Linked DNA regions of Homo sapiens: all the other regions are linked to region 1. Evidence: fine-mapped expression QTL. A gene starts in region 1. Each other region holds a variant in brackets. All regions are shown on one strand. Distances are between the middles of the regions. Region 1 holds the start of ZNF469 (zinc finger protein 469). Region 2 overlaps PIEZO1 (piezo type mechanosensitive ion channel component 1 (Er blood group)). Region 3 has its middle 53 kb from the start of LINC02182. Region 4 holds the start of LOC112268182 (a long non-coding RNA gene). Region 5 has its middle 70 kb from the start of ZNF469. Region 6 holds the start of LINC02182 (long intergenic non-protein coding RNA 2182). Region 7 has its middle 93 kb from the start of LINC02182.

The links. PIP is the estimated chance that this variant, and not a neighbour inherited with it, causes the effect.
Region 2: its variant is fine-mapped to the expression of ZNF469 in CD4 T cells (BLUEPRINT, PIP 0.95).
Region 3: its variant is fine-mapped to the expression of ZNF469 in blood mononuclear cells (TOPMed, PIP 0.99).
Region 4: its variant is fine-mapped to the expression of ZNF469 in whole blood (TOPMed, PIP above 0.99).
Region 5: its variant is fine-mapped to the expression of ZNF469 in fibroblasts (GTEx, PIP 0.95).
Region 6: its variant is fine-mapped to the expression of ZNF469 in whole blood (TOPMed, PIP 0.98).
Region 7: its variant is fine-mapped to the expression of ZNF469 in blood mononuclear cells (TOPMed, PIP 0.94).

Annotation. Positions count from the first base shown.
Region 1 is chr16:88,380,881-88,385,379 of GRCh38, forward strand. It overlaps ZNF469 (zinc finger protein 469), which reads left to right and starts at 2,079. Exons shown (of 3, transcript NM_001367624.2): 1 at 2,079-2,374. RefSeq lists enhancers at 1-350, 895-1,438.
Region 2 is chr16:88,764,086-88,768,085 of GRCh38, forward strand. The region is part of intron 1 of PIEZO1 (piezo type mechanosensitive ion channel component 1 (Er blood group)); the gene reads right to left. Among named protein-coding and RNA genes, the nearest start is that of PIEZO1, 19 kb to the right of the region's middle. RefSeq lists enhancers at 1-653, 3,548-4,000. The variant A/C (reference allele first, on the strand shown) is at 1,640.
Region 3 is chr16:88,138,940-88,143,438 of GRCh38, forward strand. It overlaps a transcript of ZNF469 not described here. Among named protein-coding and RNA genes, the nearest start is that of LINC02182, 53 kb to the right of the region's middle. The variant A/C (reference allele first, on the strand shown) is at 2,013.
Region 4 is chr16:88,428,235-88,432,733 of GRCh38, forward strand. ZNF469 (zinc finger protein 469) reads left to right here. Exons shown (of 3, transcript NM_001367624.2): 3 at 1-4,499. LOC112268182 (a long non-coding RNA gene) reads right to left here and starts at 2,128. Exons shown (of 3, transcript XR_007065178.1): 1 at 2,038-2,128; 2 at 1,730-1,888. RefSeq lists a silencer at 2,362-2,521. The variant G/A (reference allele first, on the strand shown) is at 2,361.
Region 5 is chr16:88,310,820-88,315,318 of GRCh38, forward strand. It overlaps a transcript of ZNF469 not described here. Among named protein-coding and RNA genes, the nearest start is that of ZNF469, 70 kb to the right of the region's middle. The variant G/A (reference allele first, on the strand shown) is at 2,284.
Region 6 is chr16:88,191,547-88,196,045 of GRCh38, forward strand. It overlaps LINC02182 (long intergenic non-protein coding RNA 2182), which reads left to right and starts at 2,735. Exons shown (of 3, transcript NR_110944.1): 1 at 2,735-2,965; 2 at 3,204-3,319; 3 at 3,521-3,671. It also overlaps a transcript of ZNF469 not described here. RefSeq lists enhancers at 2,517-2,811, 3,020-3,552. The variant A/T (reference allele first, on the strand shown) is at 2,299.
Region 7 is chr16:88,285,143-88,289,641 of GRCh38, forward strand. It overlaps a transcript of ZNF469 not described here. Among named protein-coding and RNA genes, the nearest start is that of LINC02182, 93 kb to the left of the region's middle. The variant C/T (reference allele first, on the strand shown) is at 2,279.

The DNA.
Region 1 (4,499 bases):
CACCCAGACATGCACTCACACACACTCACAGACATGCACTCACACAGACACGCACTCACACACAGACACGCCCTCACACACAGACATGCACTCACACATATGCACTCACACAGACATGCACTCACACACATGCGCTCACAGACATGCACTCACACACATGCACTCACACAGACACGCTCTCACACACAGGCATGCACTCACACACGCACTCACACACCCGGACATGCACTCGCACACACGCACACACAGACATGCACTCACACACACACTCACACACAGACACGCCCTCACACACAGACATGCACTCACACACATGCATTCACAGACACACACACAGACATGCACTCACACACGCACTCACAGACATGCACTCACACGCACTCACACAGACATGCACTCACACACACGCACTCACACACATGCACTCATGCACTCACACACAGAGACATGCACTCGCACACAGACACACACTTATACACACATGCACTCACACACAGAGACATGCATTCACACACACGCACTCACACACAGACATGCACTCTCTCACACACACACACGGGTTTGGAAATTGAAGTCTTTCTTAGAAACAAGAACAGACCCAGTAGAAACGAGAAGGAAGGAAACGCCCTCTGGGGTCTTTGTCCACAGCCAGGGGACCCCTGGCCCTTGAAACTTTAGGAAACCCGCTTGATTGAAATCCTGATTAACTCGAGAGGGTTTCTTAGTTCTTCCCCATTTTCCATGGAAAGGGAGATCCCAGGACCTGGAGGCCCCAGATGATGCCATGGAAATGTGAGCCAAGCCTCGAGCCTCTGGGGCCTTTCAGCCCCTGCCCCTTTTTCAATTCACGTTTTCGCGTCCACTGGCAGGAATGCCATGTGCTGCGATGCCAGCACAGAAACCCCACTGCCATGTGCAGTTCCTTTTAGTTTATTCTATACCGTTCGCAGAGTCCCAAAACAGCTTCAGGAGGCAGACCAGATTGGGGGAGGGGCAGGCCCACTCATTGGCTCCACCAGAAGGCCCGTGGTTAGGCCACACCTTGCTTTACATAATAAAGGTGTCCTTAAAAGGGTGTGCAACTTGAACTTGCGTAAGTAAAGCGTGCTTGACCTGCTCCCGGGGGACCTTTGTCTGAAGGACTAATTCTGAAAGCATTCCTTTCTGCGAAGTCCCCCCACTGCCACCCTATTTCTTAGAAGTCCACCAAGTTCATGACTTGGGATCCTCTGAAGTGGGGGAGGGCGATCCGTCCCCAGATGCTGCCCGTAACGCTGCACCCCTGCCCTTGGAGGAGGCCCACACGCCCCTGTCTGGGACAGCCGGGGACGGGCACGTACTGGGCCAGGGGGCTCTGCCTGGAGCCATCTCCGCCGTGTGGCCTTGGGCAGGTTCCTTGTCTTCTTCAGGCCTTGGTTTCCTTGGCTGTGAATGGAGATGTTGGACAAATGACCGGTAAGGGCCTCTCCCTCTCTAGGGGCCTGGATGGCTCCTAGCGCCCCACCAGCAATGCTGCCGAACTCACGGGCCAGTCTGGGGCAGTCCCAGGGCTGGACAAGGGACCCAGAGTGGAGACACGAAGGTCTGGGGGCAATGTTAGCTCCCACCTATGAGAAAGCGTGCCATGGGGACCTCCTTATGGTGCCTTCGAGGGCCAACTTGAGCCACTCAAACCGAACTTGCCCAGGCAGGTGCCAGGTGCCAGTCGGGACATCCCCCACCTCCTAGACAGAAGCACAGGGACAAGCGTGTCATGTGTGGGCACCTGGGGAGCTGGAGCGCAGGCCAGGGATGGAGATAGAGCAGCCACTGGAAGCCACATGGGTAGCATTATGGCAGACGTTTTTTAAGTTGTGCTGAATGCAGCGTTTCCGTCTCAGCAGCAAGGCCTGCCATTCTGGGGTGGGCTGGCTGGGGAGTGTGAAGAGGGGGTTCAGGGAGCAATGCCTCAGGGCCCCCCATCGCCGGGGTGGGTCCCATGAAACAAACACCTAGGAAAAGCGGCGCTAAAAATAGCTGGGGGGAGGGTGCGGGGGCGGCGGAGTCTGTAACCTAAGCCGCCCCAGCCTCCGGGGGGCAGACCCCGCGGCCGCCGGCCGGCGTCCGGCCTTCCCAGCACCCGGCCCAGGGCTGGAGCTGGCTGCAGGGCTGGCCCGCGGCGACCTGGGCAGGGTGGCGGCTGCTCCCTCTCCTCCCACCCCGCCCCGAGGCGCAGCGCGCGGCAGAGCGGCTCGGTGCCCGGCGGGCGGGCGGCCCGGGCGGGCCTGCGGTCGGGATGAGGACGGCGCCTCCGCTGCAGAGCGCTGGGGCGGCGCGGGCCGGGAGCTCGTTGGCGGCGGCCGGCGTGGCGGGCGGAGCGGGCCTCGGAGCGGAGGTGAGTGCGGATGCGCCGCCTGGGCGCGCGCGGTGCCTGGGGACCCCGGGCTGGAACGCGGGGCGGGGGTGTCACCGGGCTGCGCGGGGGTCTCCGGCCCGGCTCCCGCTCCTGCGCCCTCGGGGGCCGCTCCCCGGCGGGGCCGGACCCTCCCAGCGCTCGCGGCGCCCGGCCCGGCTCCCCCGACCTCCTCCTCCCGGGCCCGGACGTGCGGGGCAGCGAGCGCCGGGGCCCGGCGGGGGCCGCAGCCTTGCCCGGAGCGGAGCGTTGGCAGCGCGGGGTCCGGCTCCGTGGGCAGTTTGGGAAGCGCCCGGGCAACGTACTGGCGAGGGCCGCGGAGCGAGGGGCTCGGGGAGCGGGACCTCCGGGCGGGGCTGCGGGGAGCGGGGCCCGGGCCGCCCCATTCATCGCGGATCGGAGCCGGGGGTGCCCCAGCCGTGCCGCCGCCTCCTCCGGGCCGCCCGCCCGGGCGTGCTGGCCCCGCGGCGCTCCGAGCGCGGCATAGGCTTGCGAGTCGGCGGTGTCAGCGCCCCGGACGGGGGTGGGAGCTTTGGAGCCCACCCTGGGGGAGACCACGCCGCACCCCCGCCCAGCCCCGCGCACCCCCAGAGGCTTTTGCAGAGCCGGGAAGTTGGCTGGACGTCTAGACCCGTGGGGACGCGGCGCCCCGCGTGGCGGCGGCCGGAAGGGAAGGCCAATGGGGCTCGGGGGACTCCCGCGGCCACCCAGTCCTTGTCCCTGCACCCTGGGCCGAGGGCAGAGGGACAGGTCCCCGGCGGGGGCGGGGGGGCAGCTCAGCTGCCAAGTCCGCTCCTGCAGCGGAGGCGGTTAACTGCTTCATCCCCAGCCGTGAGCCATGCTGGGCATAGGGAGTGTGCCACGTGTTATCACGTTTAATCCTTACGTCCTGAGATCCGTGTTAACCCAAGTCTTAGATGCAGAAACTGATGGTCAGAGTGGGCTGATGCTGGGAAGTGAGCACAGCACGCGGTAGTGTCGTGGACAGCCCCTGCCCATTCTGCCAAGAGCAAGTCTAGTTCCCTTCTGCCGGTCGGGTGGACAAAGGTGTCTTGAGGCCCTCTCAGTGCCCAGCCTGTCCTAGGTGCCCCCAGCACAGCCCACAGCCCTGCATTCCTGAAAATAAACAAAATAAACAGGTAAATGCCTGGACAGCGTCGGGCGTGAGGGCTGAGCAGGGAGCTCGGAAGCTGGGGCGGAGCTGCAGTTTTAGGAAGGGCAGCCAGGCACCCTCGGAGGAGGTGGCCTGGGAGACGTGTCTTCCATGCCATGCGCCTGGCAGGTCCCAGACCACAGGACAGAGCTCACCGGGAGGTGATCATTCTGCCCTGCAAATAGAAAAGAGGAAGAGGATATCTGAGGCAAAAAGGAAGGCCAGGGCCTTCTCAAAGGGAACCCAGGGGCCCCGCAGAGTCTCAGCTTGGGAGGCACAGGTGAAGGGTGTGTGGCTGTAATGCCCCGAGGCTGGCAGCTCTGGGCAGTGTGCAAACCAGGAAGTCCCAGGATTTCAGGGTCAAGGGAAATTTTGGGGTCATGAACTTCAACCCCCTCATCAGCGCTTCAGTCTCCACCAGACCCTGCCTCCAGGTTACTGACTCTGCTTGGATACCTCCAGTGACCGGGAACTCACTCCCCATCACAGCAGCCTGTTCCAGCCATTCCTGCAGTCCTACCAGCTGGAATGCACTGGTCCATCATCCTGAGGCAGCAGGCAGCACATCTGCTCAGCTGTTACACATGGCTGCCTTTGGATAATTTTAATAGGGATGGTCTCCCCCTGTATGCCTAATCTCTTCAGGTCATTTCTGACTTGACATTCCTGGTCAGGCCCCATCCTGCCACCTTCCCCTGGGAGAAATTCAGTGGGTTTCTGCCCTTTCCTCGTGTTTGCTGAACGGAAGTAAACCTGAACACCAGGGTGGCCTGGAAGCAGAGATGCCCTCCCCTCCTTTCTCCTGGAGTCTTGTCACCACCGATAGTGCCCTAGATATCAGGCCATGGTGGACTCATCTGGAGCCCAGATGGTTTCAAGACAAGCCCCCTACCCTCCCTTCCGGTTCTGACTCCTACTAATAATTCAGTTACCAGCCGGGGATGGTGGCTGTGT
Region 2 (4,000 bases), 380 kb after region 1:
GGGCACCAGAGCAGGACCCAGTGGCAGGAAGGATCTGGGAACATCAGATGCGAAGGTCCTGGGGGAAACCCAGAGGTCATGAAGCTGCGGAGGGTGGGGCGGGGTACGAAAGGGGATGTGCCTTGAGACACGGGGTCTCGGCCACAGGAGATGGGGTCCTCTTGAAGCCCCAGCAGCAAGCACGTGGCAATGCCCTCCCGGCGCCCAGGTTCCATATAACCCATTCTCCAGAGCTGAAGTCCACACCACCAGCGTCGCTGGATCCTGAGCAGGTAGATTCTTAGGCTGAGGTTCATCCAAACCCAGGCGCCATGTTCTAAAGTGTCCTCTGGGAAACATGAACGTGCTCTCCAGGCAGAGATCACGCGTCGACATTCCCCTGCCAGGCCGGGCGCGGTGGCTCACACCTGTAATGCCAACACTTTGGGAAGCTAAGGCGGGTGGATCATGAGGTCAGGAGTTCGAGACCAGCCTGGCCAACATGACGAAACCCCGTCGCTACTAAAAATACAAAAATTAGCCGGGCATGGTGGCACGTACCTGTAATCCCAGCTACTCGGGAGGCTGAGGCAGGAGAATCGCTTGAACCTGGGAGCCTGGGATCCCAGTGAGCTGGGATCGCACCACTGCACTCCAGCCTGGGCGACAAGAGTGAAACTCCGTCTCAAAAAAAAAAAAAAAAGAAAGAAAAAAGGAATGCCCCTGCCACGGCCTGCCTTTGACTCCCAGCATCATGCCGTGACCTCCCAAAACGAGGACTCCGCCCTCGGCACCAGGGGCAGACACTGGCGACCACTCCAACCATGGCCCCAGCAACTCACCCCAGAGAGGCAACAAGGGCTTCCTAAGAAGCCTGGCCATTGAAAACCTCCCGGTAGCCGCCTCTCAGGAGCACTGCCTTCTCAACACAGCTACCTGGCCCTGGCAGACCCGGCTGCCCACTGTGTCCTCAGCGGTGCTGGACCCAGGACAGAAGATGGGGTGCTGACTCAGAGCCCTCACCCTGTGATTTACCCAGCGGCACCCAGCCCCCTGGCCTGTCCAGTCTGGCCTGTCTAGACTGCCCCAGGGCCCAGTCACAGGCTGGCCTGCTCTCTAGGGACTTCCCCGGCACTCAGAGAGGAATGCAACCTGGCCACCTCCCTCGCAGGCAGGAGGGGAGTCACCAGCCACTCGGAGGCAGCCTGGAGAGGGGGTGTCACGGGCAGGTGTCTGGTCACACTCCCTTCAGAACCTTGCTTCCCCTTCCCCCCAGGCCACTGGGACAGGGCAGGAGAGGGAGGGGAATCTCAGGGCAGGTGTCCAGGATGGTCGTACATCATGTCTGTGTACTTCTGCAGGAGACTGGGGTCTGGTCCTAGCTCAGCCCTCCCCTCTCTGTGCCTTGAGTTCCCAGTAAGTGAAATGGGGACAGAATTGGGCACCTGTACCAGAACCATCTTGCCCTCCCAGTGGATGCCACCCCAGAAGCACTGCCCGGACACGTGGCCAGGTGAGCACCTCGTATAGCTGGCAAGGGGCTGGACAGCAGCGCCTGGAGCCTGGCTCCCTGGTCTCTAGAGAGCCCAAGTCGTTATCTCTAATTTTTTTTTTTTTTTTTTTTGAGACAGAGTCTCACTCTGTCGCCCGCCCAGGCTGG[A/C]GTGCAGTGGCACAATCTCGCGCACTACAACCTCTACCTCCTGGGTTCAAGCGATTCTCCTGCCTCAGCCTCCCGAGTAGCTGGGACTACAGACACCTGCCACCACACCCGGCTAATTTTTCTATTTTCAGTAGAGATGGGGTTTCACCATGTTGGCCAGGCTGGTCTCGAACTCCTGACCTCAGGTGACCCGCCCACCCAGGCCTCCCAAGGTGCTGGGGATACAGGTGTGAGCACTGCACCCGGCCGCTATCTCCATTCTGAACAGGGTGCTGAGGATGGAGGAGGTGCGACCAGAGACATCACATGCGAGTCAGCGCACGGCTGTGTTCTCAGTCGGCAGCGTGGGTGCCGTGGTCACGCCTGCGGGTGGGGTGTGAGGGTTGATTCATGTGTCAGCGCTGCTGGGCCACGCTGCCCAGTTTAGTCAAACGCCAATCGCAATTTGGTGTGCAGGTGTTTTTAAAATGAGATTGATTTAAATCAGCAGACGGCATGAGGGCCTCATCCAATCAGCTGAAGGCAGGGGAGTGTCGCCTAAGGGCCCGGAGGAGGAATTCCCAGGACCGCCACAGAGAAGCCCGGCCTGAGCGCACAGCCTGGACTCGAGACTGCAACAGCGGCTCTTGACAGCCAGCGCGCCCTGCGAACTTCAGACGTGACAGCCCCACAATCGCGTGCGTCAGCTCCTTAAAATAAATACCCATTTCACAGGTAGAGAGACATATCAATATATAACAAGCACCAGGCTGGTGTGGCCGAGGCCTGGGGACCCCGAGTTCCTGCCGCCTGTGTGGTCCCTCCCAGCACCTGGCAGGGCCCAAAGGGGAAGCTCAGGCACACACCCACCTACCTCCGGGGCCCTGGGCCCAGCTGACTGAGCTTGACAGCCAGCTCTGCTGCCACAGGGCTGGGGCGAGTGGGACGCCGGGGGCCCCCACACATACTCTGGAAATTCAACAAAGTCATGAAGCAACCAAGGGAAAAAAATCAACATTCTGGGCTCATAACCACTAGGTGGGCAGGGCACTGCCTGGCTCTTCCCCAGGATCACCAGCCCCAGAACGGGGACCCGGCCCCAGCTGCTCTCAGAGCCACAGGGACGATCACCTCAGGCCACGAGGGCCGGGGCCACCCCAGGTTGGAACCCTGGGCCCAAACTGGCTAGAGTGGGCCTCAGTTTCCCCTTTCCATGAAATCTCAGAGAACATTCACTTTCCTCTTCTCCACTTTCAAAAGTTTTTAAAATGCAGAGAAGCACAAAGTAACACCCAAGGTCCTCACAGTCAGCCTGTGAGTGCCGCGACTGCTCTGCCCGCACGAGCCTATTCTACCAAGCACAGCTTTCCCATCAGCTTCTCCGATCGATTGGCTTCCCTGATTGATTGATTAGCTTCTTCCCGGATTGAGCTGCAGTGCGCTCTTCACTCATCTCCCCATTCCTCCCCCTTCCCAGAAGGAAACGGTCTCATGAGTCTCGGGACATCCTTACGGGAAGGAGACATTTCTGAGTTCTGGAATTCCATCCAGGGCCATCTGCAAGGGCATCCCTGGCCTGTGGCTGTGCTGAGACCCCTGGGCCAGGTCCTGCCCATGAGGAAGGAGGTCAGGGGGCTGTGCTGGGAGAGCTTTAAGTCACAAAAACAGGCCCCCACAGCCCAGAGCCCCCCAGCCCTGATCCCCCAGAGACCAGAATGACTGAGGCAGGAAGGAAGGGGACCAGCCACAAGGTCGAAGCTTCAGTCAGCTTTGGAACTCCCCCACTGCAGGTGACTGGCTGGGGTGGAAGCCGCCAGCTTCCCTACAAACCCCTGCTCCTCTCCCATCTCTCTCAGGACCCCAAGAGCCACATACCATCATACACTTGGCCACTGAGCCAGAACCCACATTTGCAGGGGGAGCCCATGTCATCCTCAGCCACCTAGGAAGGCGGAGTCACTGCTGTCCCCTGGCTCAGAGGAACCAGGGTCCCCAAAGGTCACAGGGTGAGGCCACCCAGCCAGGGAGGGGCAGAGCCAAGCCAGAACATCTCCGCTGAGCCTTCTGCCTCAGGGTGACCCCACCCTGCCCTGCCCTACAGCCCCGAGTCAGGACTACAGCCTTGAGGGATCGAGGGGACTCAAGCCAGCTTCCACCACTGAAGGGCAAAACCCACACTCCCTGACACAACCCCCAAGCCCTCGCAGACTTCCCGGGCTCCCTGACAGCACGAGACTCACGCACATGCTTCTCCCGCTCCCTCCCCCGGGTCCAGACCCCAGGTCCCTGAGATTTCCCCCAGGCCCTCCAGAGGGGACCCCGTGGACCAGACCCCTTAAAGCAGAGGTCTGCAAAGTGGGACCCACGAGCCCCCAAAGCCAT
Region 3 (4,499 bases), 240 kb before region 1:
TGCTAGAGGGAGGCCTCTGGTGAAACGCTAGGCTGTGCTGACAGGGGGGACCCTGTCCCAATGTAAACACACAGACATTCTGGGTGAAATGTAACCTGCAACATTTTAAGTCCATAGACAAGCTTGAAAGAAAGACCGGGAAAGCTTTCAGGACTAGAAATGAAGAGTGAAATGAGAGGGTGTTTCGGAGATCCTGAGAATTGTGATGAGCGTCAGAGCAGAGACTGCTCTGCATCCCACATGCTGGAAGCTGGGATGAGCCCAGCCAGGAGGCTCAGAGCCCCAAGGAACTGCGCATGCTGTGAAAAGTGGATCTGAAATCTTTTTGCCCCCTGGCCTGGGGATGTGATGAGGAAAATTGCTGTGAAAAGTGGATCTGAAACCTTTTTGCCCCCTGGCCTGGGGATGTGACGAGGAAAATTGCTGTGAAAAGTGGATCCGAAACCTTTTTGCCCCTTGGCCTGGGGACGTGATGAGGAAAATTGCTGTGAAAAGTGGATCCAAAACCTTTTTGTCCCCTGGCCTGGGGATGTGATGAAGAAAATTGCTGTGAAAAGTGGATCTGAAACCTTTTTGCCCCTTGGCCTGGGGACGTGATGAGGAAAATTGCTGTGAAAAGTGGATCCAAAACCTTTTTGTCCCCTGGCCTGGGGACGTGATGAAGAAAATTGCTGTGAAAAGTGGATCTGAAACCTTTTTGTCCCCTGGCCTGGGGACGTGATGAAGAAAATTGCTGTGAAAAGTGGATCTGAAACCTTTTTGTCCCCTGGCCTGGGGACATGATGAGGAAAATTGCTGTCTGTCCAGGCTTTGAGTAGAGGAAAGAAGTTTCCCATAAGAAATAGAATCTCCAGACCTTCTCGACACCTGAGTCTGGTGACTGCATGGTTAGCACAGCACAGAATCCCTAAGACGGAAATTCACAGAACCCCAGGCCAGAGGATCTGGTAAATGAGGACATTTCCTCAGCCCAGCATTCGTGAGACAGTCTCCAAACAACAGCATCAACAACAAAAGATACACAAAATAACTCCTACCGAGTTTGAGCTCCAATAAACAGCCACAGGAAGAAACGAACTGTCAGGATCAAGTGCAGTGAACACAGAATCAGCACTGTGCAGACAGGGAATAATTGAACAGCAGGAAATACATGTGTTTATCTAAAATTATTTAATACAAAAGAGGGAGTCATAATGAAAGTCCAGAGCAAGAGAAATGGATTTGGCATTGAAGTGGCAGAACCGATTTAAATGAAAAATATAGTCATAAAAAAAAACTTTGGCTATATTAAATGGAAGCTGTAAGAGAGCTGGTAAGAAAAGTGGCCGGGGAAATACAATACGGAGGAATAAATATTTGGAAAGGAAGACAGAGCCATTTAGAAATCGGAGGGTAGCACGGAGGAAAGGAGGACGGAGCCACGTAGAAATCGGGGGGTAGCACGGAGGAAAGGAGGACGGAGCCGTGTAGAAATCGGGGGGTAGCACGGAGGAAAGGAGGACGGAGCCACGTAGAAATCGGGGGGTAGCACGGAAAGTCAGTGACAACACTGATTTACAAATGAGCAGGCAGAACGTGAGAGACGCGATGTTCAAAGATCCTGCAGAAAAGCCGGGGGCCTTGCCCTTCTAGTTACCAAAATATACTCTAAAACTGTGTTAATCCAGGAGGAATTTCAGTATAGAAACAGGTAAGTGGATTTTAAATTGAGGCCAGGCGCAGTGGCTCAGGCCTGTAATCCCAGCACTTTGGGAAGCCGAGGTGGGTGGATCATTTGAGGTCAGGAGTTCGAGACCAGCCTGGCCAACATGGCGAAACCCCACCTCTACTAAAAAATACAAAAGTTAGCCGGGCGTGGTGGCGGGCGCCTATAATCCCTGCTACCTGGGAGGCTGAGGCAGGAGAGTCGCTTGAACCCAGGAGGCGGAGGTTGCAGTGAGCTGAGATCATGCCATTGCACTGCAGCCTGGGTGACAGAAGGAGACTCTGTCTCAAAAAAACAAACAAACAAA[A/C]AAACAAAAAAATCAAGTCTAGCGTATGGCCCTTTACAAGAGAATTTAATGTAGGAAATTGGTCACGTTTGAAAGAGAGGAAAGAATCATTCAGAGGCATCGTTGGGCCAATGAATCCACCATCTGGAAAAACAAAGTTAGAACCCCACCTTACGGACACAATAAATTCTGTGCAGATAAATCCGCTAAATTGCAAAAAAAGTATAAAAGTATTAGTAGAAAAATAGAATAGTTGTATAATTCTGGTGGAGGAAAAGACTTTCTACCCCAAATTCTAATCCCAAAAAGGACAAGATGGACGTCTTCAGTTACATAAGAAGTTAAAGCAGTTGTGTAACAAAAGACACCAAAACCAGTGTTAGAAGACAAGAGTCGGACTAGGAAAGAAACATGCAGCCCGGGAAAGACGCCCTGGGAGGTACCCCCGTCCTGGTCCCCGGAGCCTGCTATGAAATGCTCAGCCTGGGAAAGAGGCCCTGGGAGGTACCCCCGTCCTGGTCCCCGGAGCCTGCTATGAAACGCTCAGCCTGGGAAAGAGGTCCTGGGAGGCACCCCCGTCCTGGTCCCCGGAGCCTGCTATGAAACGCTCAGCCTGGGAAAGAGGTCCTGGGAGGCACCCCCGTCCTGGTCCCCGGAGCCTGCTGTGTGCCTCTCCCACGGCAGTAGGGCCTGTGCAGATGGGACTGAGCGAGAGGCCTCCAGGTGGGGACCATCCTGGTCATCTGGGTGGCCCAAGGTCATCACGGGCATCCTTGTAGGAGGGAGGCGGGAGGCCAGGGGCAGGAGGGTCAGCAGCAGGCAGTGGCAATGGCAGCAGAGGTCGTGGTGACGTCAGAGGCACCATGAGCCCAGGAACACAGAAGCCTCTGGAAGCCAGAAAAGGCAGGAAAGGGATTCTTCCCTGCGCCTCCAGAAGGGACCAGCCCTGCCGACACCTTGATTTCAGCTCCGTGAGAGCCGGTTGGGCTTCTGACCGCCAGAGCTGTGGGAGAATGCATTCGTGTTGTTTCAGCCATAAGTCTGTGGGCCATTTGTGACTGCAGCCGCAGGAGGCTACGCAGACAGGCTCATGTGTGCAGATCTGAGCTGAGCTCGAGATGCCTGATGCAGATGATAGGAAATAGTCCACAGCGGCCAGGATCTCAACAGGCTTCCAGGGGAACAACACAGCGATGTCCAAGGGTGCGTCCAGGGTGAAACTGCAGGGCCACGTTCAGCACAGGGAAGCAGAGAAAGAAGGTGAGAATAAATCAGCTGTCCTTCCTGCAAGACCCGGCTGGGCGGGGGGTCTGGGAAAGGCTGCCCTGGGAGGGTGAGCAGGTTCCCTGGGCTCTCAGCCACAGCCCTGCCCTGCTTTGCTAGGTCAGGCGAAGGCACCTGACCTTCACCTCCTGGCCCTGGCCCTGCCATCCAGGCTGGGCAGATGATGTTGGCGGGCCAGAATCCTGCGAGGGTTATCCTGAGGCTCGAAAGTGGAAATAGATGGGAGGGACCTTGAAAAGCTCAGAGTGATGCCTAAGCGGGTCCTTATCAACAGCCCAGTGTGAGCCTCAAGCACTGAACTCCAGCCTCAGGACTGAGAAGGTCCTTATCAACAGCACAGACCTCAGCGTGAGCCTCAAGTCTCAGGAGCTTGAAGAATGGCTTCTGTTTACTGAGCACACGTGATGTGCCAGGTGTGGCCCTGGGGCTCGAACTCTATTGCCTGGTCTATAAAGCACATGTCACCACCCTGTTTTACAGAGGAGGAAACTGAGGCTTGGGGAGGCTCATCAGCTCACCCTGCGGGGAGTCGGCCGGCAGCAGCTGCGTCGCTGTGGATCCCACCCGAGGGTCCCTGATGTGGGTCACACCTGTGTGCTGGCTTTAATCCCCAGCCCCACCTGGATGTGCAGCCTGGGGCCAGCATGGCCCACAAGGGTGGGACGGATGGCATCGTCACCCTCCACGCACAGGGGCCTGAGAGCACAGGGCCCCTCAGGGAGAGCCCCTGCGGCAGAATCAGAGTCTCAGGAATAAAGACAAGCAGAGGTCTCAGTTTCTCTGCCTGAAAACTGGGGGTGGCAATCCCCACCTCACCGGCCTGTGATTAGGATGGGAGGAGACAGGCTGAGATGGGGCCCCAGGCACTTCACCGACACCCGGTGAGCACTCACCGAATCCTCACCTGGAGAAGCCCTGGGGGGGTGGGGGGCTCAGCGGCCCTGCCCACGGAATGCCCACCTGGAGCTTCTTCAGTCATGGCATCAGGGGCAAGTGCTTGATCGTTTTGTGCCTCAGTTTCCCCCTGTGTCAATGGAGATTTCAGCAGTTCCAACCTGTTCAACACCATGAAGATGGAATAGGTTAGCGTGCTTAACGCACTCAGGGCCGTCTCCAGCCTTAAGGAGGCACCACTCAGAGCGGGGTGGAGCGCCTAGCGGGGTGGGGTGCAGAGCGGGCTGGGGCGCCGAGCAGGGTGGGGCACCGAGGCTGTGTTCCTTGTTG
Region 4 (4,499 bases), 47 kb after region 1:
GGAACCTATTCCCAAAGGCAGCAGGCCCGGCGGCAGCCCCAGGGGAGTTTCCTTCCAGTTCCCCTTCCCGGCACTGCATGGGGCCAGCACAAAACCCTTCCCTGCGGATGTGGCTGGGCACGCATTCACCAATGGGCCACTGGTGTTTGCCTTCCATCAGCCCCAGGGAGCGTGGCCGGAGGAGGCCGTGGGCACGGGCCCTGCCTACCCGCTGCCCACCCAGCCTGCGCCCTCACCCCTGCCCTGCTACCAGGGCCAGCCAGGTGGCCTGAACCGCCACAGCGACCTCAGTGGTGCCCTCTCTTCCCCTGGAGCTGCTCACTCGGCCCCGAGACCCTTCTCTGACAGTTTACACAAGAGCCTGACCAAAATCCTTCCCGAAAGACCACCTTCAGCCCAGGATGGGCTGGGGAGCACGAGAGGGCCCCCTAGCTCCCTACCCCAGAGGCACTTTCCAGGGCAGGCGTACAGAGCCAGTGGGGTGGACACCAGCCCGGGGCCTCCGGACACCGAGCTGGCCGCCCCAGGGCCCCCACCCGCCAGGCTGCCCCAGCTGTGGGACCCCACAGCAGCCCCTTACCCCACACCTCCTGGGGGCCCCCTGGCTGCCACCAGGAGTATGTTCTTTAACGGCCAGCCCAGCCCAGGCCAGCGGCTCTGCCTCCCCCAGAGTGCCCCCCTGCCTTGGCCCCAAGTGCTCCCGACCGCCCGGCCAAGTCCCCACGGAATGGAGATGCTGAGCCGGCTGCCTTTCCCCGCGGGGGGCCCCGAGTGGCAGGGGGGCAGCCAAGGAGCCCTGGGCACTGCTGGCAAGACACCGGGACCCAGAGAGAAGCTGCCAGCCGTGAGAAGCAGCCAGGGCGGCTCCCCAGCACTGTTCACCTACAACGGAATGACAGACCCTGGGGCTCAGCCCCTGTTCTTCGGGGTGGCCCAGCCCCAGGTTTCACCCCACGGGACACCCAGCCTGCCCCCACCGAGGGTAGTGGGAGCCTCCCCCAGCGAGTCCCCACTGCCGTCACCGGCCACCAACACGGCCGGCAGCACCTGCTCTTCCCTGTCGCCGATGTCCAGCAGCCCAGCCAACCCCAGCTCAGAGGAAAGCCAGCTCCCCGGCCCCCTCGGGCCCTCGGCCTTCTTCCACCCACCCACTCACCCCCAGGAGACGGGCAGCCCCTTCCCGTCCCCGGAGCCCCCCCACTCCCTCCCCACCCACTACCAGCCAGAGCCAGCCAAGGCCTTCCCTTTTCCCGCAGATGGGCTGGGAGCCGAGGGTGCCTTCCAGTGCCTGGAGGAGACCCCATTCCCCCACGAGGGCCCCGAGGTGGGTCGGGGAGGGCTGCAGGGCTTCCCCCGTGCGCCGCCTCCGTACCCCACACACCACTTCTCCCTCAGCAGCGCCAGCCTGGACCAGCTGGACGTGCTGCTGACCTGCAGGCAGTGTGACCGCAACTACAGCAGCCTGGCGGCCTTCCTGGCCCACCGGCAGTTCTGTGGCCTGCTCCTGGCCAGGGCCAAGGATGGCCACCAGCGGTCTCCAGGCCCCCCTGGGCTCCCCTCGCCCCCCGCTGCCCCCAGAGTCCCTGCCGACGCACACGCGGGCTTGCTCAGCCACGCGAAGACCTTCCTGTTAGCTGGGGACGCCCAGGCCGAGGGCAAAGACGACCCCCTGAGGACAGGCTTCCTGCCCAGCCTGGCCGCCACCCCCTTCCCGCTCCCTGCCTCGGACCTGGACATGGAGGATGACGCCAAGCTGGACAGCCTCATCACAGAGGCGCTCAACGGCATGGAGTACCAGTCGGACAACCCGGAGATCGACAGCAGCTTCATCGACGTCTTCGCGGACGAGGAGCCTTCCGGCCCCAGAGGTCCCAGCTCCGGACACCCCCTTAAGAGCAAGGCGGGGGTGACTCCAGAGAGCAAAGCTCCGCCCCCGCTCCCAGCAGCCACGCCGGACCCCCAAACCCCCCGCCCTGGGGACAGGGGCTGCCCAGCCCGAGGCAGGCCCAAAACGCGTTCCCTGGGTCTGGCCCCCACCGAGGCGGATGCGCCCAGCCAGGGCAGGCAGCAGAGGAGGGGGAAGCAGTTGAAGCTGTTCCGGAAGGATCTGGACTCGGGCGGCGCAGCAGAGGGGTCGGGGTCGGGCGGCGGCGGCAGAGCCTCCGGCCTGAGGCCCCGGAGGAACGACGGTCTCGGGGAGCGGCCCCCACCCCGTCCCCGGCGCCCTAGAACGCAGGCCCCCGGGAGCCGCGCAGACCCCGCGCCCCGGGTCCCGAGAGCCGCCGCCCTCCCCGAGGAGACCCGCAGCTCCCGGCGCCGCCGGCTGCCCCCCAGGAAGGACCCCAGGAAGAGGAAGGCTC[G/A]GGGCGGCGCCTGGGGCAAGGAGCTCATTCTGAAGATCGTGCAGCAGAAGAACAGGCGCCACCGGCGGCTGGGGCGGCGGGCGGGCAGGTGCGGCTCCCTGGCGGCGGGGAGGCCCCGGCCCGGAGCTGAGGACCGCAGGCTCCGCGAGTACGACTTCGCCTCGGAGTCCGAGGAGGACGAGCAGCCTCCGCCGCGGGGCCCCGGCTTCAGAGGCCGGCGGGGCCGAGGCGAGAAGAGGAAGGAAGTGGAGCTGACCCAGGGTCCCAGAGAGGATGAGCCACAGAAACCCCGGAAGGCGGCGAGGCAGGAAGCCGGCGGGGACGGAGCCCCCGCGAACCCCGAGGAGCCGGGCGGGTCTCGCCCGGGCCCCGGCAGGAGCCCTCAGGCCCGTGGCCCGTCTCGAAGCCTGGAGACGGGAGCGGCCGCCAGGGAGGGAGGCCCCAAGTGTGCTGATCGCCCCTCAGTGGCCCCCAAGGATCCCCTGCAGGTCCCCACCAACACCGAGACCTCAGAGGAAACCCGCCCGTCGCTGGACTTTCCCCAGGAGGCCAAGGAGCCTGAAACTGCCGAAGAGTCAGCCCCGGACAGCACAGAATTCACAGAGGCTTTGCGTTCTCCTCCAGCCGCCTGTGCGGGAGAAATGGGAGCAAGCCCCGGTCTCCTGATACCAGAGCAGCCGCCGCCCAGCAGACATGACACCGGCACCCCCAAGCCGTCGGGAAGCCTCGCCAACACGGCGCCCCACGGAAGCTCGCCAACGCCAGGTGTGGGCAGCCTGCTGGGTGGTCCTGGGGGCACACAGGCCCCAGTCTCCCACAACAGCAAGGACCCCCCTGCCCGCCAGCCTGGAGAATTTCTGGCACCCGTGGCTAACCCCTCAAGTACCGCCTGCCCCAAACCCAGTGTTCTGTCTTCAAAGATCTCCAGTTTTGGCTGTGACCCTGCTGGTTTTAACAGAGACCCCTTGGGGGTTCCAGTTGCCAAAAAGGGGCCTCAGCCCTACAGCAGCCCCCACAGTGAGTTGTTCCTCGGACCCAAAGACCTGGCTGGCTGTTTCCTGGAAGAACTGCACCCCAAGCCCTCAGCCAGGGATGCCCCGCCGGCCAGCAGCTCCTGCCTTTGCCAGGACGGCGAGGATGCCGGTTCCCTCGAGCCACAGCTGCCAAGGAGCCCACCTGGCACCGCTGAGACGGAGCCAGGCAGGGCTGCATCGCCACCGACCTTGGAGTCCTCATCCCTCTTCCCAGACCTGCCGGTGGACAGATTCGACCCACCCCTCTATGGCAGCCTGTCTGCGAACAGGGACTCCGGTCTGCCGTTCGCATGTGCCGACCCTCCCCAGAAGACGGTGCCGTCAGATCCACCGTACCCCTCTTTTTTGCTGCTTGAGGAAGTATCCCCGATGCTGCCTAGCCATTTTCCTGATCTCTCGGGGGGAAAGGTGCTCAGTAAGACGTGTCCCCCTGAACGGACAGTGGTTCCCGGCGCCGCCCCATCTTTGCCTGGGAAGGGGAGTGGATGTAGCGTTGCTCTTATGAGTCACCTGTCCGAGGATGAACTGGAGATCCAGAAATTGGTCACCGAATTAGAAAGTCAGCTGCAAAGGAGCAAAGACACACGTGGGGCCCCGAGAGAGCTTGCAGAAGCTGAGTCGGTGGGCAGGGTGGAGCTCGGCACAGGCACAGAGCCACCCTCCCAACGGCGCACCTGCCAGGCCACCGTGCCCCACGAGGACACGTTCTCGGCAGCTGACCTCACGCGCGTTGGAGAATCCACTGCACATCGGGAGGGTGCGGAATCGGCTGTGGCCACCGTGGAAGCGGTTCAGGGGAGGCCTGGGGGGACGTGGCCCTGCCCAGCCTCCTTCCATCCGGGACATGCAGCCCTTCTCCCCTGTGCCCAGGAAGACCTGGTTTCTGGGGCTCCTTTCAGCCCCAGGGGAGCCAACTTCCATTTTCAGCCAGTGCAGAAAGCCGGAGCCTCCAAGACTGGACTTTGCCAGGCAGAAGGAGACAGCAGGCCCCCCCAAGATGTCTGCCTGCCTGAGCCCAGCAAGCAGCCTGGCCCACAGCTGGATGCCGGGAGTTTAGCAAAGTGCAGCCCCGACCAGGAACTTTCATTTCCTAAGAATAAGGAGG
Region 5 (4,499 bases), 70 kb before region 1:
TTAAAAGAGCAGTTTTAGATTTACAGAAAAATCGAGAAGATGGCATAGAGTTTCTACTTGCCCTGCGCCCAACTGTCCACATCTCACCCTCTCACGGTGCCTTTGTTGTCACTGATGAACCCAACACTGATCCATCCTCATTCACCGTGCACCCTCACAGCCTCCTCCTGCACCAGGACCACATCCGGATCCCACCCAGGATTTGCTCGTCACGCCTCCCTCGGCTCCTCTCCAACTCCTTGTTTTTGAGGATCTTGACAGTTTTGAGGACCGCCTGGGCATTTTGTGGATCATCCCTCAATTGGGATTGTCTAGTGTTTTTCTCATGGTTAGACTACAGCGATGAATCACTGGGAGGAAGACCCTGGGGGCGAAGTGCCCATCTCACCACATCCCCTCAGGGGTCTACATCATCAACAGGATGCATCGCAGGGGACATTGACCTTGGCCACCTGGCTGAGGCCTCACTCTTTTTAAAGCTGAAACTGCAGGTCCCCAGGCTTTTATCCAAACCCTGGAGCTCGACAGGCTTTTTATTTCAGAGCTCAGGATTTTAGAAATGTAATGTACATTTACACAGCACTCCCATGGGATCCAGGGAAATAACCCATAAGAAAGCCCATGACTGTTTCTGCACTGAAACATGAATATTTACCCTGATTGGAGAAGCAGAGAAAATAAACAGTCTCACTGCAAATTTCCAAGCAAGTTCCAGAAGAACTTTTGTGGGGACTTCAGAACAGCTAGTAAGGGATGGTGGCCTGCCCTCCGTCAGTGGTTCATTCTATAACTTACTGTGCTGGGCTCCAACTGAGGGGTGTCTGGTGGTTTCAGGGCTGTCCCTGCAGCGTTGCAGAGACAGTCCTAGTGTGGAAGTCTCTGTGAGTACCTGCCAGGTAGATTTCTGGGAGGCCACACTTGGCCCCAGGTTTTTGTGTCTTAAACTTGGATTGAGTTGGCCAAGTCGTTCGCCAACAAGGACATATTGATTTGCATTTTCGCAATGATATAGCCTGGGGCTTGTTCCTGAAGCTGCGTGCTTTCAAATGATTGATTGTGGAACACCTGATGGTGAAATCTCATTGGCTGCTTGTATTAGTCCATTCTCACACTGCTGATGAAGACATACCCAAGACTGGGTAATTTATAAAGGAAAGAAGTTTAATGAACTCACAGTTCCACATGGCTGTGGAGGCCTCACATTCATGGCAGAAGACAAAGGAAGAGCAAAGGCACATCTTACATGGCAGCTGGCAAAGAGAGAATGAAAACCAAGTGAAAGGGGTTTCCCAGTATAAACCCATCAGATCTCATGAGACTTCTTCAGTACCATGAGAACAGTATGGGGGAAACCACCCCCATGATTCAATTATCTCCCACCTGGTCCCTCCCACAACACAAGGGAATTATGGGAACTACAGTTCAAGATGAGATTTGGGTGGGGACACAGCCAAAGCCTATCAGTACGGTAGTTCTAATTCCCAGGAGGCTCAGCCTGTTCTCATGTGGTTATAGGTTGCTGGGATTTACCTTCTTGCACCAGCTTCTCAGGCCATTTGCCCATTTGTCTCTTGACGGGTTGGTCTGTAACTTACTCTTTTTGTTGTTTCTTTAATCCCCTGTTTCTGATATATAAGTTGCCAAATTTCTCCCCAATTCTTCACTTGCTCGTGTGCCTGTGTTTTGTTCATTTGTGTTGGCTTTAAGACCCTTATTTTATGTGGTCACATATACCCACCTCCTTTTAAGCTTCCTGTGTTTTGTTTCATTCTTCAAAAGGCCTTGCGCATGCTGAAATTATTTTGTTAGAAACATCTTTCATGATTTCTTCTAGTGCTTTTGTTTTTTTGCCCTTAAGTCTTTGATTTGAGGGAGAGACGCCATTTTTCCTTTGTCTAGGGGGTGAGCCAGCTGTGCCAAGACCATTTGAAATGCTGCCTTTACAACGCAGTCAATGCGTCTGCCTTGTTCCACTGATGGGTCCACCCATCTTCATACCAGCCCCAAACCGCATTTTACTACAGTAGCTTTGCAAGCCATGCTGGTGCGCCATGGACTCCACGCCTCCATGCCCTCACGAATTATTCTAGGATGGCCTGGATGTTTATTTTTCCATATGAACTTTAGACTCAACTTACTTAGTTCCAGAAATAATTGTTGGTATAGGAAAAAGGAGCTGATTGACTCTGCAGCCTGATCTAGGGATAACTGACATATTTGTTATTATCGTGGCTCCTGGTCAGGGTCACGGTCAGGGTCAGTGTTAGGGTCTTCCCTTGATTC[G/A]GGCATTTTGAGCATCCCTCCGCTGTGCCTCCAAGTTCCCTTCATGTGGCTGAGGCACATTTCCTAAGTTTTTTCTGAGATATCTTTTTGTTGCTGTTATAAATTTGATCTCTCATTATATTTTCTATCTAATTATATATGAGAAAGCTGTTGATATTTGAATATCTTACTCTAACCAGTCATCTTCATGAACTCTGTTCATTTTCCAGATATGTAATCATATCAACTAAAATGGTGATCATTTTCTCTGCTCTTTTTCAATTTTTATACCTTGTAATTCTTTCTCTAGTCCAATTGCATCCGCCCATCCCTCCAAAAAATGTTCAATCCTAGTGAATATCTCTGTCTTATTTCACTATCTGTAATTAAGACGATGCTGGTGTGGACTGTCTCTGTAATTAAGACGATGCTGGTGTGGGCTGTCTCTGTAATTAAGACAATGCTGGTGTGGACTATCTATCTCTGTAATTAAGACAATGATGGTGTGGACTCTATCTCTGTAATTAAGATGATGCTGGTGTGGACTGTCTGTGTGATTATGATAATGCTGGTGTGGACTCTCTCTGTAATTAAGACAATGCTGGTGTAGACTGTCATCTCTGTAATTCAGGCAGTGCTGGTGTGGACTGTCATCTCTGTAATTCAGGCAGTGCTGCTGTGGACTGTCATCTCTGTAATTCAGGCAGTGCTGCTGTGGACTGTCATCTCTGTAATTCAGGCAGTGCTGGTGTGGGCTGTCTCTGTAATTAAGATGATGCTGGTGTAGAATATCTCTGTGATTATGATGATGCTTGTGTGGACTGTCATCTCTGTAATTCAGGCAGTGCTGATGTGGGCTGTCTCTGTAATTAAGATGATGCTGGTGTGGAATATCTCTGTGATTATGATGATGCTGGTGTGGACTGTCATCTCTGTAATTCAGGCAGTGCTGGTGTGGGCTGTCTCTGTAATTAAGATGATGCTGGTGTAGAATATCTCTGTGATTATGATGATGCTGCTGTGGACTGTCATCTCTGTAATTCAGGCAGTGCTGGTGTGGACTGTCATCTCTGTAATTCAGGCAGTGCTGGTGTGGACTGTCATCTCTGTAATTCAGGCAGTGCTGGTGTGGGCTGTCTCTGTAATTAAGATGATGCTGGTGTAGAATATCTCTGTGATTATGATGATGCTGGTGTGGACTATCATCTCTGTAATTCAGGCAGTGCTGCTGTGGACTGTCATCTCTGTAATTCAGGCAGCGCTGGTGTGGGCTGTCTCTGTAATTAAGATGATGCTGGTGTAGAATATCTCTGTGATTATGATGATGCTGGTGTGGACTGTCATCTCTGTAATTCAGGCAGTGCTGGTGTGGACTGTCATCTCTGTAATTCAGGCAGTGCTGGTGTGGGCTGTCTCTGTAATTAAGATGATGCTGGTGTAGAATATCTCTGTGATTATGATGATGCTGGTGTGGACTGTCATCTCTGTAATTCAGGCAGTGCTGCTGTGGACTGTCATCTCTGTGATTCAGTCAGTGCTGGTGTGGACTGTCATCTCTGTAATTCAGGCAGTGCTGGTGTGGGCTGTCTCTGTAATTACGATGATGCTGGTGTGGAATATCTCTGTGATTATGATGATGCTGGTGTGGACTGTCATCTCTGTAATTCAGGCAGTGCTGGTGTGGGCTATCTCTGTAATTAAGATGATGCTGGTGTGGAATATCTCTGTGATTATGATGATGCTGGTGTGGACTGTCATCTCTGTAATTCAGGCAGTGCTGGTGTGGGCTGTCTCTGTAATTAAGATGATGCTGGTGTGGAATATCTCTGTGATTATGATGATGCTGGTGTGGACTGTCATCTCTGTAATTCAGGCAGTGCTGGTGTGGGCTGTCTCTGTAATTAAGATGATGCTGGTGTAGAATATCTCTGTGATTATGATGATGCTGGTGTGGACTATCATCTCTGTAATTATGCTGAGGAAGTGTCCTCCTCGATCTGACCTGGAGTTTTGAATGAGATATGATTTTCCTCTCTGACCCTAGATTATATTTTGGTGAGAGCCAGGGGCAGGAAGGTCTCCCCCGAGGGCCAGGGCTCCAGGGCAAGTCACCTAAGGTTGTGCGGCTTGGTTTTCCTCACTGTGAAACGGGCGCACGAGATCTGTGTGGTCGGAGTGTTGGTGCCCTCTGAGGTCCCTGGGGCAGGGGCTGGCACGGCACTGGCCCCAGACCTAGA
Region 6 (4,499 bases), 190 kb before region 1:
AGGGGATGAATGAACAAGAGCAGGAGAAGGACCGCCCTGAGGGCAGGAGAAAAGGGTGTGAATCGGGATAGAAGTCAGAACCCCACCAGCTTCTCGCCTGGGAACCAATTGCTGGGGCTGCTTCCTTCCTTCATTCATTCCTGCTTTCTTCACTTCTTCATTCCCTGAACATCAGACATGGTCATAGGCCCTGCTGAGAATTAAAACAGAACAATGAACAAGTCCCACTCTCAGAACGCAGGCAGAGGTGAAATGTTCGGTGGGCTATGGTGATGGCTTTGGAGATTTACTGGTAGCTTCTGTGGGGTTACTCTGGCTGGGATGGGGACCCCAGGGGCCTGCTATGGACAGAATTGTCTCCCTCTCAAATTTGTATATTGAAGTCCTAACACCCAGCGTGATGGTATTTGGAGGGGGGGACTTTGGAGGGTGATTAAGTTTAGATGAGGCCATGAAGGTGGGACCCCATGATGGGACTGGTGTCCTTACAAGGAGAGGAAGAGGCTGGAGCTCCCTCTTTCACCTTGTGAGGACACTGTGGGAAGCCACCTGGAAGTCAGGAAGGGCCCTCATCAGAAGCCAAGTCAGCCATACCTTGATCTTGGAATTCCAGCCTCCAGAACTATGAGAAACAAATTCCTCTTGTTGAAACCATGCAGCCTGAGCTGGTGGAAGCGTTCGGGGTGAGCATGGCTCCTGCAGGGAGATGGAGCAGGGACATTGTGTCAGGTCTAAGGCTGCTGGTAGAGCCTCAGCTTCCTTTCCTTGGCACTCACCAGGCCATGCTGGGAAAGAAGTCTGAGCCAGGTAGTTCGGAAAACACCCCCTTGGTAACTCTTTTGGGAAACGGAGACAGACATCAAGGTCTTGTCTACTTTGTGCAGGAAGATGACATGCGGTAATAAGGAAAAGAAAATGGGAGGTCCTCTGTCTCATGGAATTTGGGGTCACAAGTGTCTCTACAACACCTTACTGGGTCTCAACTCCCAGCTTCTCAGGAGCAAGAGACAAAGAATACAGGTCAGCAGAGCAGAGCCCGAGGGGCTGGTCCACAGTCCAAGTCACACATGATGAGGACAGTATTGAGAGTCATCACATGATGATGGCAGTGATGGTGGTAATGATGATGGTGGTGATGGTGATGATGGTGGTGATAAAGGTGATAATGGTGGTGATGATGGTGTTGATAATGGTGGTGGTGACAGTGGTGATGATCATGATGGTGATGATGGTGGTGATAGTGGTGATGACAATGATGGTAATGATGGTGATGGTGGTGGTGGTGGTGATGACAATGATGATAATGATGGTGATGACGGTGGTGGTGATGATGATGATGGTGGTGGTGATGGTGGTGATGATGGAGGTGATGGTGATGATGGTGATAGTGATGATGGTGATGATGATGAGGATGATGGTGATGGTAGTGATGGTGGTGGTGATGGTGGTGGTGGTGATGGTGGTGATGGTGGTGGTGGTGATGGTGGTGATGGTGGTGGTGATGATGGTGATGGTGGTGATGGTGGTGGTGGTGATGGTGGTGGTGATGGTGTTGATGGTGGTGGTGGTGATGGTGGTGGTGGTGATGGTGGTGATGGTGGTGGGGATGGTGGTGATGGTGGTGGGGATGGTGGTGATGGTGGTGGTGGTGATGGTGGTGGGGATGGTGGTGATGGTGGTGGTGGGGATGGTGGTGGTGGTGATGGTGGTGATGGTGGTAGTGGTGATGGTGGTGGTGGAGATGGTGGTGGTGGGGTTGGTGGTGATGGTGATGATGGTGGTGACGGTGGTGATGATAAGGATGATGATATTGATTATGAGAGTTGTCTTAGTCCATCTGGGTTGCTTTAACAAAATACCGTAAATTGGAGGCCAAGCATGGTGGCTCACACGTGTAATCCCAGCACTTCGGAAGGCTGAGGCTGGAGGATCACTTTAGGCCAGGAGTTCGAGATTAGCCTGGGCACTACACAGGAGGATCCATATCTCTACAGAACATTTTAAAATTAGCTGGGTGTGGTGGTGTGCACCTGCAGTCCCAGTTACTCAGGAGGCTGAAGTAGGAGGATAGCTTGAGCCCAGGAGGTTGAGGCTGCAGTGAGCAATGATCTCACCACTGTGCTCCAGCCTGGGTGGCAGAGCGAGACCCTGTCTCTAAAAAAACCCCAAAAAAACATAAATTAGGTGGCTTATAAACAACAGAAGTTTCTTTCTCATAGTTCTGGAGGCTGGGAAGTCCAAGATTAAGATCTCAGTAGAGACAGTGTCTGGTGAGGCCCATTTCCTCATAGATGGTTA[A/T]CTTACTGCGCCCTCACATGGCGGAAGGGGCAAGGGGGCTTTCTAGGGCCTTTTATAAAGCACTCATCCCATTAATGAGGGCTCTGCTTCTTAACCTCGTCACCTCTCGAAGGCCCCACTTCCTAATCCCATCACTTTGAGGTTAAGGATTTCAACAAATGAATGTGGAGGGACACAAACACTCAGGCCTCAGCGTGGCCCGGCACCTGCAGAGTGTGGCTTGGTGCAATCACTCTTTAAGCTCCCGCCCCTGGTTACTTGGTTTATTCCCCCCTCCGCCACACAAACCTCCAAGGCTGGGCTACTGATCATCCTCTTCCTACAGACGAGAGACTGCAGGCCTGGAGATGGCACAGCCTGCTCAGGCCACACGGCCTGCAGGTGGCACTGCACTGCAGCAGCCGGGGACGGGCCTCACGTCCTCAGTGCCCCGTGATGTCATTTCAGTGTCGGAGCAGGGAGGGACCTGCTTGTTTTAGAGAAGGGGGTTCACCTGGGACACCCCTGAGCTTTGTCCCAAGCCTCAACAAGCCACTCACTTCCCACTTGGGAGTAGTTTCTCTGCACGCACCAGGCAGTGGGACCAGGGAAGAAATCGCGTCCGCTAAGTGGTGTCGTCTGCCTGCAAGACCTGCACAGCTCCCAGGCCTATGGCTTTGGGCACCAGGTGCTGGGCCGGCGTCTGGAAATGATTAATTCCCTTTGGAGAGAAAAACATCACAGCTGCGTGGCCCTTCCCGGTCCTGGGCGTGGGGCGGGAGGCAGCCGTGCCCGGGATTTCGCGCTGCCCCCGGCGTCTCCTTCCCCGTGCTTTTGTGACTTGATCAGGGTAGATTTATTTTCCGATCCACTGGTTTGTCAACATGTCAATTGACTTGCCTCCATCTGCTTTTTCCCCATGCCAGGACGGTGCCGGCTGAAAGGGAAGTGTCAGCTGTTCTTCTGTCTTTAAAAGGCAGCAAAGAAAAAAGCGCAGGGTTGGGTTTCGTAACGTCAGAGGAGGCCAAGGACACAGCATGGAGTGAGTTACCCGGGCGGGGAGGGAATCGGTGGGGCTGGTCCACGTCGCTGTCCCAGGGAACGGTATTTCTCTCTTTCTTCAGCCCTCATGCGTGTTGCTGGGCTGTGGACACTGGACGAGTTCGGAGAACTCTGGGCCACGTAGGCCCCAGAGGTGCAGGCTGATGGATGGGCTTGTCTTTCTCCCCTTGTCGCCTTTCAGATCTGACGGGAAACGCATGTGGGCGAGGAGGTGATGGGCTTCAAGGCGCGGCTCTCTGGTCGCAAGCCGCCTGTTCTCAGAATACAGCTGGCTGTGTTGTAATCGCACGCTGATCTCACAATAAATAACGTGTGCATGGAACGTGCCTTCAGATGAGCGTGAATTTTTACAGTGTGCACAAACAAAATCCCCCAGCCTGGAGAGCTAAAAGCAGGAGGCGGCCCAGGGGGTGACAGGGCCTGCCTTTCTGGACATGCATGACCTGCAGCCTCTGCACCGGGACTGTGCTGCTAATTATAGCTGTGTTCGTGGGCCCCGCTGGGTGGTTTTGCGAAAATCCATGATTCAGTTCACACTGATAATCTGCTCTGAGGCTGTGGGTGAGGGAGGATTTTCTGGGGGAACAGAAGGTGATCTGAGGGCTGGAGGGGAAGTGGGTTTTAGCTGGGGCTGTCGGCTGATCCTGGCCAAGAGACAAGGTTGCAGAGTTGATTCTGAAAGTTGGACGTGTCTTGGGGTGAGAGTCTCTCTGTCATATCGTCAGACTCAGCATGAAGGTGGTAACAGTCCTCGAGAGGGCATGGGCCCAGCTAACAATGGCAGATGGACGTTTGAAGAAAAGGGGGAAGAGGGCTCTTGCTCTGAGACCTCGGGGTGTCCCGAGATGCAAAGGAGAACAGAGCCCAGAGCGTCAGGAAAGGTCCCATGAGTCTCTCATTGGTCCCCCACCCTGAGCTGTCTCCAGGGAAATCTCTTCTGGAGTAATTTATATTCCATGTCAACTGGTCAGGACAGCCTCTGTGGGTTTGGGAAGGTAGGAGGGAGCTCCAGAGACAACACCGAGCAGGACTTGATGCCCAGACACTTGCTCCCAAGATGATTAACTTGGGAAACTGGAATTATTCTGCCCAGAGGAGGCTGCGTCGTGATCCACAGACATCTGATATCTCAGGCCACATCAGTAATGTTCTGTTTTTCC
Region 7 (4,499 bases), 96 kb before region 1:
TCACTGACTGTGGAGTCTCAGGGCTGCTATCTGGGCCAAAGGCCCGTGTGCCCGGAGAACTGCCCCCAGAGCTGTGGTAGGCAGGCAGCATCAGCCCCGCCTCCCGCAATGGAGCTATTCTGGGTACATGAGGGTTCCTGCCAGGGCAGGTGAGGCCCTCAGGAGAGAGTTCTGAGCAGGGCCCACTGCTGAGCGGTCTCTAACCCTCGGCATCTGTGCAGGGGATCAGGCAGGTGCAGCAGCCATGGTCACCCTGGTGGACGAAGACAGGCAGCCAGGGGCTGTGGGGAGACAGTGTGGGAGGCCACACTGTCACAGCAGAATCTTCCAGGCATTGCCACAGCCAGCGTGGGCAGGGCCACAAAGAGCAGGGTCAGCCTGGTCACGAGGTGAGGCCTTTCCAGCAGCTGACACGGCACCCAGGACCCGAGGCCCACCTGTGGCCCATTTGGCACCCTCTTGCCCACAGCTGTGGTCTGTCCATGTAATGTCCTTTCAGACACGCTGGAAGCGTCGGCACGGTGGGGAGGTGCTCAGGGCCTCCGTGGGGCCGGTGGAGAGCAAGCCAGCTGGTGATGTCCCTGGGCCCTCTCTGAGTGGTGGGCAGTGAGGGGGTTGGGAGTGCCCTCTGGCAGGGGCCACCATGTTGTCTGCTGCTTCCCAGGCCACCCTCGTCACAGTGCAGTGGTGGCAAATGCTTTCCATGTGGGAGGGGCCCTCGTGCCACTTGGCCTGTGGCCACAAGAAGGCCTCAGCTACAGATGTCTTCATCCCTCCATGAGACTCCTGCTGACCCTGTGAAGGCCGCTCACTCTGGCATTGTCTGCTCAGCCCCCATCGGACCCACAGCCCGGAGCATCGCCATCTCCTTCCTTTCAGAACCACCCACCTGTGTTTTAGCCCAGGAGCCCCAGTCCCAGCCCACTCGGTGCCTCCATCGTGCCCCATTGCTGGGGATGGAGCACATTCCCCTGTTGGGAACTGCCTTTGGCTTTTGGAGTTTTTGTGCATCCTGTCCTGCCTGGGACGGATGAGTTTCTCAAAGTCACAGGTCCCTCCAGTTGTTTTCCTAAGAAGCCCCCACTCCGTTCACCACAGAGTCCTGAATGGATTCAGGCTCCTGGGCCTCAGCGGCAGCTAACTGTGCAACAAGATTGATTCGCTCCTTGGAGTCCTGGGAGAGCCACGGCCTGGCTGCTGACATCTGCCGTTATACTCAGGTGGCTGCCAGGCCTTTCTGCACCTGCCTGTCTGCTCTGAGCTCGCTGGTGCCCTCTTCTCCCTGCCCCATCCTCTCCCCATCTGAACGCCGGGTATTTACACCTTCCTGCCAATCTGCAGGAGCCAGCTCCCACATGCCATCCTCTGGCTGCTGATCTGAGCCACTTGCCATCGGGAGAGGACATGGCCCCTCACCTGGCCTGGGCCCCTGCCAGGGCTTTGTCAGTGCAGGTGGGGGAGGGAATGTGGAGGACAGGAACATTCTGCATTCAGTGCTGACAAGATGCCATCATTCAGCAGGGGCTGGCTGGGAAGAGGCTCCCAATGACTGACAGGTGAGCTGCTGTGAGCTTTAGAAGGAACAGAAAAGTACTTTCATGTTCCCAGTGCTGCGTGGCCCACAGAACAGGACAGATACTGCCCTGTGGCCCTGTCCTGGCCCCTCTCTGCCTCTGTGTCTTATAATACTGCATCCATCCAGGTCACATGAGTCCCCCTGAGGCCCTCGACTCCCAGATACTGAGCTCTGGGGAACTCGCTCAGGAGAGGAGATGTGGGTGGAGCCACATCAGGGGGAGTGTGTATGAGACCATCTGACTACAGCAGCTCAAATGAGCTTAGGAATGCCTAAGTCCCGTTTTTCTTATTCTTTTGCTTTTATTTACAGTTCTACCCTATAACTAGTGTCCCCAAACACTAGATTTTTCTTGCTTTTTAAAGCTTTTCTGAACATGGTAGGGTCCAGGCCATATGCTGTTCTGTGACTTGCTTTATTTCACCGAATCTTCAGTTTCTAAGGTGCACCTTGGTTGTTGTCCGTAGCCGATGGCCATTCATCCTCACTGCTGTATAATACACCCTTGTGTGAATGTGCCACAATTTGTCTACCCAAGTCTCCTGTCAACGGACACAGGAGTTTCCAGTGTTTTGCTGTCACAGTGAAACTGCTCTGAGCATCACAAGTCTCCTGATGTGTGGCACAAAGGTTTCTCTAGGTGCACATGTATATGGCATGTTGCATTGTAGACAGTGGTTGTGTACAACCGCACCAGCGGAG[C/T]CCAGCCACCTCCAAAAGGCTGCACCACTGCCCACTACCACTAGGGGGAGACAACAGCTCCAAGTCTCCCCACCTTGTAGCACCTGCTACCCTTGAACTTCAGTTTCTTTATCAATCCCATGCTGGCAAAACTGTAGCTCACTTTTTATCTGGTGGATCATTTTATCACAATTATAAATACACATCACTTAAAGCCTTAAAACATTGAACAGTTCTATAAGGCTTGTTATGAGAAACAACATCCCTCCCAGGTCCAGCCCCCACCCCCAGTACCCTTTCCGGTCTTCATGTTGCTATGAATGCTGGTGTGACGCTACTTCTTGAAGTTCTGTTTTAAGCATTATGCATTCACGCTCCAGGCTAGACTTCCTTCACCCTGCCGCATTAGCCTTATGGCCAGCGCTGACTTCATGGTGATCACGTAGCTGTAATTCATAACTGAGGCTTACTGAGTACTGTCATTTCCTTTTCTTTATTGCACATGTTTTTTAGAAATGATTTGAGATTTTTGTCGGTTGGTTGTGATTGGCTGGTTTGTTTGCTTGCTTTTCTGTGCACTTATTAATTCAATCCCAAACTCACTCCAGTTGTATAAATCTCCTCCCAAGACTTTCAAACACACTAGATAATTTATCCATTTCATCTTTGTGGAGAAACCTTTTTCCTCCTGCTGCTCCAATCTGGACTAGATGTTCTCCGTGCCCTGTGGTCAGTCAACATTTTGCGAGTCTCCTTTCTCCATCTTACCGGGGAGTATCTGTACCTTGCTCTTGTGTTGAATCTCCTGCTTCCTAGATCCATGCCCTTCACCTTCTTGGTTTACTCCCTTGTTTTCATGGAGCATGCCCCCAGTAGCTTTGTGAGAGAGGGAGCCAGGGAGGCACGCATGTTGAGAACTTGGATGTTTTCACATGTGTTTATTCTACTCTGTCACTCACGCTCCTTGATGGCAGGACCTACCTGTTTTTTATTTATCATATTTGCCTTTGTTCACCCCATTTTTATTGCCAAGAACATTGTCTCCTACCCATCCACCTATCCAAATCTATCAATCATCAAGGCTACACTCTATGATATTTATTGCATCACTCTCTTGACATTTATACTCATCACATTTATTCATTAATTCAGCATTCACTTGATGAACACCTGCTATGTGTGTTTGAGGAATTCACAATGAATCAAAAACAAGCTCTTCTGCCAAGAGGAATTCTAGAATGCTGGAGCTAGACGGGACCCCTGATACTGTCTCATGTAACCCCTGTTGCATAGATGGAAAGATTGAGACCTGCTTGTCCAAAAAGTATGCAGCCCAAATCTCCTGACTTCCAGGCTCTTGCTCTTCCTATGTCAAAAGCTATGTACCAGAGGGGCTTTAATATAAAAGGATGACAAATAAAAGTAAAAGCCTGTGACCAGAGTTTCACAGGAGAGAGAGAGAGAGAGCACTTGTAACAGAAGCACTAAGGGCAACAGTACCAGAAAGTCATTTAATGACAAAGAGCATAAAGCAGACACTCCATACATCCAGTGTTCTTGGTGACTCTACAGTTATAGTACAGTGGTGGTGATGATGGTGGTGGTGATGATAATGACGATGATGAGGGTGATAATGATAACAGTGATGGTGATGATGGTGGTGATGAGGGTGATGATGATGAGGATGTTGATAGTGATGAGGGTGATGATGGTAACAGTGATGGTGATGACGGTGGTGTTGAGGATGATGGTGATGGCAATGATGATGATGATGAGGGTGTTGATGATGATTAGGTTGATGATGGTGATGGTGGTGATGATGAGGGTGATGATGATGATGAAGGTGATAATGGCAACAGTGATGGTGATGATGGTGAGGGTGATGGTGATGATGATGGTGATGAGGATGATGGTGATGGCGATGATGATGATGAGGGTGTTGATGAGGGTGTTGATGAGGGTGATGATGGTGATGATGGTGATGGTGATGATCATGATGATGGTGATGATGATGATGATTATTATGACAAGGGTGATGATGATATGATGATGATGATTAAAATAACACAATTACACCGATCTGTGACTGCGAGTTATTGAGTGTTTGTTCTCTGTTAAGTAAGTACTATGCTGAGTGCTTCACCTAAATTAGCTCATTTAATCTCCCATCACCACTCCATGAGCAATGAGTGTTATTTCACTCATTTTACAAATGAAGAAGCTGAGAGAGAGAGAAATGAAG